Linked DNA regions of Homo sapiens. The protein of the gene in region 1 interacts with the protein of each later gene in a pairwise test. Each region holds a gene or a part of one and is shown on either strand. Other genes may lie near its edges.

What was found. The genes of interacting proteins can lie anywhere in the genome.
Region 2: the proteins of PLSCR1 (region 1) and SPG7 interact in a two-hybrid assay, tested with the Homo sapiens proteins (one large-scale study listed by BioGRID and IntAct).

The regions. Positions count from the first base shown.
Region 1 is NC_000003.12:146,517,553-146,520,823, reverse strand, and holds part of PLSCR1 (phospholipid scramblase 1), read left to right. Parts: intron 1-3,271. UniProt on the Homo sapiens protein: Catalyzes calcium-induced ATP-independent rapid bidirectional and non-specific movement of phospholipids (lipid scrambling or lipid flip-flop) between the inner and outer leaflet of the plasma membrane resulting in collapse of the phospholipid asymmetry which leads to phosphatidylserine externalization on the cell surface.
Region 2 is NC_000016.10:89,514,837-89,518,643, reverse strand, and holds part of SPG7 (mitochondrial inner membrane m-AAA protease component paraplegin isoform 1 precursor), read right to left. Parts: intron 1-3,807. UniProt on the Homo sapiens protein: Catalytic component of the m-AAA protease, a protease that plays a key role in proteostasis of inner mitochondrial membrane proteins, and which is essential for axonal and neuron development.

The sequences.
Region 1 (3,271 bases):
GTTAACTGGGCCCACCTTTCCAACAAAAGGGTAAAAATCTACTAAAGATGTGTGGGGCTGCCCCTTGTAATAATGACATGGGAACTCTACCACTGTCTCCACCCCTTACTGAGGTTTTTCAATATCCAGTGTCATTCATTTATGTGATCTGCCTGCCTTCTTTAATCACATGGTATTTTATTCCTCCGTCAGACTTTAGCTATATAAAGATGAATCCTTTCCCCCATTGACTTCATAATCTAATGACAGAGATTTGCAGTTCTAAGGAGGATGTGATATAGAAACTTTAAAAAGGCTCTTATAAGGGGATTATATAATGTGTGTATGTATATGTGTGCATAATATGCATGTATAAAAATTTTATGTAAGGGTATGCATAATAGCAGTTCTTCATGTAAGGGATGGAATCTCTGTCCTACATCCAGAGAAGTGAAAAGTAATTTCTCATTCAAGGAACAATATTAACAGAAGTTTGGCTGGCATATATTTTATTTTTAGTAAATAAATGAAAACACTGGAAAAACATTGTGTAATCCTTGTATTTGATACTAAAAAATTTATGTTTCATCTGGCAGTCTTTCTTGATGGATACCTTAAAGCATCCATTCCATGTAATAAATTAACTTTTCTTCTATTTATCTAGAATGATGATATCAAGGTACTCTCATGGAAAGAATTGAGAAATAGTCACTTGAAGAATTTTCCATAGAGTTGACAATGGAAACTTTGACACCTCAAAGCAGAAATTATCAGTATGAGGGACCACTAAGGAACATGAAATCCACCAGGGTGTCACTGGGCATGGAAACTTGAAGTAATAAAAGAGATAAAAGCCTGTTCCACAGCAGGGGCAGGAGTCATTCTAAAACAGAGAATAACTCAAGAGGCATTTCATAGGTGTACTATGTGGAACTAATTCATGGATTTGATATCAATTGAGGATGAAAAAAATTTTGGAGATAAACTTGATGTGTTATTATTCTGATATTACATTGGCCAAGTTAAGAATCTTGGAGGAAAAACACTTGATTTGTGTCCTCTTGACCATTATGATAGTCTGCTTTTTAAAAAGTAAGGTATCAAATACTAATACACATCTAGGTCAGGGATCAGCAAAATATAATCAATGAGCTGTAGTTGATTATATAAAATATATATGGGAAGTTAATGACTTGAATTAAGGTCATGTTGGATTTTAGTTATGTATAGGAAAAGAATGGAGAGTTTTCAGCAAACAGACAGTAATTGAATCTCTAAGAAGGTTATCTTAATGGTGAGTAAGAGAGAGCCTAGTAGACCTTTTATCCAATATAGGTGATAAGAGAGTCTGTCTCCTTCAAGGACTCTTGGTAGGGGGAAAAAATATGGCCACATGAAACTGACATACCAAGTCAGCTCTGTCTATGAGCTTGAAATCTGAATTCCTGCCACTGTTGTGTTTCAGGAATCTCAAAATATAGAAACTGATCCTGAGTAGTGATAAATTTTATATGGTCAACTATAGCCCACAGATTTTTTTTCCTGCCCTCTCAACTAGATTTTCATTAGTATTCAATAAATATGTTTTTAAAAAGCAGACAATCCTAATGGTCAAGAGTATAGACACTGGAGCCAGATGCCCAGGTTTGAAACCCATCTTCACAACACTTATCTATGTGACTTTAACAAATTCTTTCACTTCTCTTTGCTTTAGTTTTTTTACATGAAAATTGGGTGTAATAACAGTAAATAAATAAATCATTAGTAAGTAAATAAAATAGCTTACCAGCAACTATTAATATACTCATGATACACTTTTTATATTTCTTTGCTACATACCTAGATCCTATATGCTGTCATTATATTTCAGTATTTTGCATTTATATTTGCATTGTGAGATGAATCTATGGTTTTCTTTTTAGAATGCTTTTACCAATTAGTATTGCACTCATGGATTTGAAAGTTTAACATTATACAATACCAATTTATTATTTCCAAATGTTGACATTTTATTATAGTGATTTTCTATTCCAAAATGTCTACAATTTAGCTAAAAATTATCTAGTCCTGCTAATTTATTGGTTGAAGATCATTATTTGCATTTCTTATCCTTGCCATAAAAAATGTATTCTCTACTTTGTTAAATTTCTTGCTGTAGTAATCAAAAAGGGCAAATGTTAATATCTTTATCTGTATAGTGTTGAGTTTACGGTGGCTAGTAAGTTGTCAGCTGCATTTTTCATTTTTTTAAATTTCAGAATTAAAAAATAAAACATAAGAGTTTTCATTACTAGCTTCAAATGCTTCAATGACAGCTATTAGCAGAAAAATACTAACATGTACAAGAAAGGATTTGTATTAGTTTATTTCACCACAGTAGTATTTCATTACACATAATCCCTAAAACTCAGCAGCTTGCAATAAGTGTTTATACTCATGCTTATGGGTGTGTAGGTCAACTGTGTTTCAGTGGATGTATTTAAGCACTGACTTAGGCGCATGTTAACCTCAATCTGCTCCAGGTAGATTTGTTCTATGGCTGTAGCAGCAGCAGCTACCTGAGTCATGCTTTTCTAGTGGCTTGTCACTGAAGATCATAAGCCAGGCCAAAGCACTTAGCCAAGTTTAAGGACACTACTCATGTCATATCTGCTAACACCCGTTGTTCAAACAAGTAACATGGCCAAGCCTAATTATGAAGGAACAGGAAGTATACTGGCCCTACAGAAGGAGAGGGAATGAAATGAATATTTGATGAACAGTATTATGCTATCAGCTTCATATTAGATGTTTATTTCTAGTATTTTACAAACTATCCACTTGTACTCAAATAAAATGAGTCAAGTATTTTTAGATTCCCCACATTTATTTAGCTGAAAAGGACACTCCTCTGTTAATACAACTATATGTGTACATAGTTTTGTGAATTTCAGCTACATTCAGTCCCCACCTGCCCTCCTAGAGGAGTTGCCTTAGTCTGAGCAAAGTCCATTCAACCCTATATGATGGCCCTGGGCTTTCCTCAGGCAGAATTGTAAAATTAGGAAACTTCTACTTCGGAGCTCATTTGTTCATACACTCTTCATCTTTTATTCACACCCCACTAGTTATCCACTCTCAACCTCAACCCTTGGCGTGGGGCATTTCATCAAGTTACTTATTGGTATTTGCCTTTACTCCAAACTGCTAATCTTTTCTAGGTGCTTAGCATTTCATGTTTGGCAACTCACAGTGGGTAGTAATAAGCCTTTTCATCATATTTAATCTTTCAGTCTGTGTAAACTGTGCTTCT
Region 2 (3,807 bases), on another chromosome or scaffold:
TGGGTTCACCCGCGTTATCAGTGAGCGGGGCCTTTTTTCCACTCCGTGTAATTCCTTCTGGGTTCACCCGCGTTATCAGTGAGCGGAGTCTTTTTTCCACTCTGTGTAATTCCTTCTGGGTTCACCCGCCTTACCAGTGAGCAGGGTCTTTTTTCACTCCGTGTAATTCCTTCCAGGTTCACCCGCGTTATCAGTGAGCGGAGCCTTTTTTCACTCCGTATAATTCCTTCCAGGTTCATTCGTGTTATCAGTGAGTGGTGCCTTTTTTCACTCCGTATAATTCCTTCCAGGTTCACCAGTGTTATCAGTGAGTGGTATTCCAAGCAAATACTTTTCGGGCAACCACTACTTACAATCATTCTGCACGGCTGGCAAAGCTGTTTCTAAGCCACATTCAGTATCGTTCTTTCATTTAAGGAGGTGGCAAAAGAATCTTCATCTGAACAGACGCCATGCAGTTCAGCATCAGACCAGGGAGAAGGCCTGCCTGAGGGCCGGGACTGTGTTGTGCCTGTCTGATCAAGTCAGCAGTCCTGAAAATCCACACAAACCAACTCCCGCCGAAACCACAGCAGAGGGCCCAGGGGAAACCCAGAATAGGTTCTCACAAGAAAGATTATTTGGCTCAGTAAACAATTATCCTCTAACGCAAATTTAACAGACATTATTTTCTCCAAGCAAACTATAGTTCAACCCAAAACAGAATAAACATAAAACAATCACTTGGCCGGGCGTGGTGGCTCACGCCTATAATCCCAGCACTTTGGGAGGCCGAGGTGGGCAGACCACAACGTCAGGAGATCGAGATCATCCTAGCTCACATGGTGAAACTCCGTCTCTACTAAAAACACAAAAAATTAGCCGGGCATGGTTGCGGGCACCTTTAGTCCCAGTTACTCGGGAGGCTGAGGCAGGAGAACTGCTTGAACCCACGAGGTGGAGTTTGCAATGAGCCGAGATCGTGGCATTGCACTCCAACTTCGGCAACAAGAGCGAAGCTCCATCTCAAAAAAAAAAAAAAAAAAAAGACGACGACAATTACTCAGATGCAGGAGAGACACGCATGTCAGCTACACGCAGCCTCATCCATAAGCAGATGCAGGGCCCAGGAGAGCAAAGGGCATGGTGACTGCCTGCCCTTCCTCACGCCAGGGCACCTGCCAATGCAGCAACGACTAGGATTTCACTGGACAAGCACCTACCACATGCCAGGAGTGATAACCAGGAAGCTGCCATGGCTTTGCCTTGCCATGGCAACGGAGGCTGCCATGCCATTCCTTCCAGGAACCATGACAACGGAGGCTGCCATGCCATTCCTTCCAGGAACCATGACAACGGAGGCTGCCATGCCATTCCCTCCAGGAACCATGACAACGGAGGCTGCCATGCCATTCCTTCCAGGAATCAGAGTTATTAGTGGGGCACACGTCCCTGGTTAACCGTAACACAACACACAAGGCTGAATGCAGAATCCGCACAGGCCACACAATTCTTCCCTCTTCTATGACAGGTGACCCTTCAGCAACACAGGAGTGAGCTATGTATGATCACGGACACGTGGATTTTCTTCCACCCCTGCTACCCAAGACAACAAGACCAGCCCCTCGTCCTCCTCCTCAGCCCACTCAAGGTGAAGGCCATGAGGATGAAGCTCTTTATGGTGATCCGCTTCCACTGCATAAATAGGAAATATATTTTCTCTTACGACTTTTTTCTTTTTTCTTTTTTTTTGAGACAAGAGTCTCGCCGTCGCTTTTTTCTTTCTTAATTTTTTTTTTTGAGACAGAGTCTTGCTGTGTCGCCCAGGCTGGAGTGCAGTGGCGCGATCTCGGCTCACTGCAAGCTTCGCCTCTTGGGTTCACGCCATTCTCCTGCCTCAGCCTCCCGACTAGCTGGGGTTACAGGTGCCCACCACCACGCCTAATTTTTTTTTTTTTTTGTATTTTTAGTAGAGACAGGGTTTCACCGTGTTAGCTAAAATGGTCTCGATCTCCTGACCTTGTGATCTGCTCGCCTTGGCCTCCCAAAGTGCTGGGATGACAGGCATGAGCCACCACGCCCGGCCTTTTCTTTCTTAATTTTTTATGTTTGAGACAGAAAGGTCTCACTCTATTATCCAGGCTGAAGTGCAATGGCACAATCTCAGCTCCCTGCAACCTCTGCCTACCAGGTTCAAACGATGCTCACGCCTCAGACTCCGGAGTAGCTGGGATTACAAGCACGTACACCACACCTGGCTAATTTTTTTTTTTTTTGGTATTTTTAGTAGACAAGGGGTTTCACCATGTTAGCCAGGCTGGTCTCGAACTCCTGGCCCCAAGTGATCTAACTTTCTTCTTTTATTAAAAAAACGAACGGCCGGGCGTGGTGGCTCACACCTGTAATCCCAGCACTTTCGGAGACCAAGGCGAGTGGATCACCTGAGGTGAGAAGTTTGAGACTAGCCTGACCAACGTGGCCAAACCAGGTCTCTACCAAAACTACAAAAATTAGCTGGGCTTGGTGTTGCATGCCTGTGATCCCAGCTATTCGTGAGGTTGAGGCAGGAGAATCACTGGAACCCAGGAGGCAGAGGTTCCAGTGATCTGAAATTACGCCATTGCACTCTAGCCTGGGAAACAAGAGTGAAACTCCAGGCTGGGCACGGTGGCTCACACCTGTAATCCCAGCACTTTGGAAGGCCAAGATGGGCAGATCGCCTGACATCGGGAGTTTGAGACCATCCTTGCCAACATGGTGAAACCCTGTCTCTGCTAAAAATACAAAAAATTAGCTGGGCGTGGTGGCGCACGCCTGTAGTCCCAGCTACTCGAGAGGCTGAGGCAGGAGAATCGCCTGAACCCAGGAAGCAGAGGTTGCAGTGAGCCGAGATCGTGCCATTGCACTCTAGCCTGGCGACAGAGCGAGACCCCATCTCAAAAAAAAAAATAATAATAATAATAGTAATAATAATAATAGAAATGAGGGTCTTAAACTCCTGGGCTCAAGTGATCATCCCACCTTGGCCTCCCAAAGTGCTCAGATTACAGGTGTGAGCCACCGCACCTACCCAGCAAATTTTTTTTTATAAAAAGGTCAGCCGGGCGTGGTGGCTCACACCTGTAATCCCAGCACTTTGGGAGGCCGAAGTGGGGAGATCACGAGGTCAGGAGTTCAAGACCAGTCTGGCCAACATGGCAAAACCCTGTATCTACTGAAAATACAAAAATTAGCTGGGCATGGTGGTGCATGCCTGTAATCCCAGCTACTCAGGAGGCTGAGGCAGGAGAATCGCTTGAACTCAGGAGGCAGGGGTTGCACTGAGCCGACATCGCACCACTGGACTCCAGTCTGGGCAACAGAGCGAGACTCCGTTTCAAAAATAAATAAATAAATACAAAATAAAAGTTAAAAAAAAAAAAGGTCCAGGGCTGGGTGCGGTGGCCCACTCCTGTAATCCCAGCACTTTGGGAGGCTGAGGCACGCAGATCACGAGGTCAGGAGATTGAGACCATCCTGGCTAACACGGTGAAACCGAGTCTCTACTAAAAATACAAAAAATGAGCCGGGTATGGTGGCGGGCACCTGTAGTCCCAGCTACTCGGGAGGCTAAGGCAGGAGAATGGCGTGAACCTGGGAGACGGAGCTTGCAGTGAGCTGAGATCACACCACTGCACTCCAGCCCAGGCGACAGAGCGAGACTCCGTCTCAAAAAAAAAAAAAAAAAAAGGTCAAGGCCAGGCACGGTGGTTCACACCTGTAATCTCAGCACTTTGGGAGGCCAAGGTGGGTGAATCACCTGAGGTCAGGAGTTTGAGACCAGCCTGG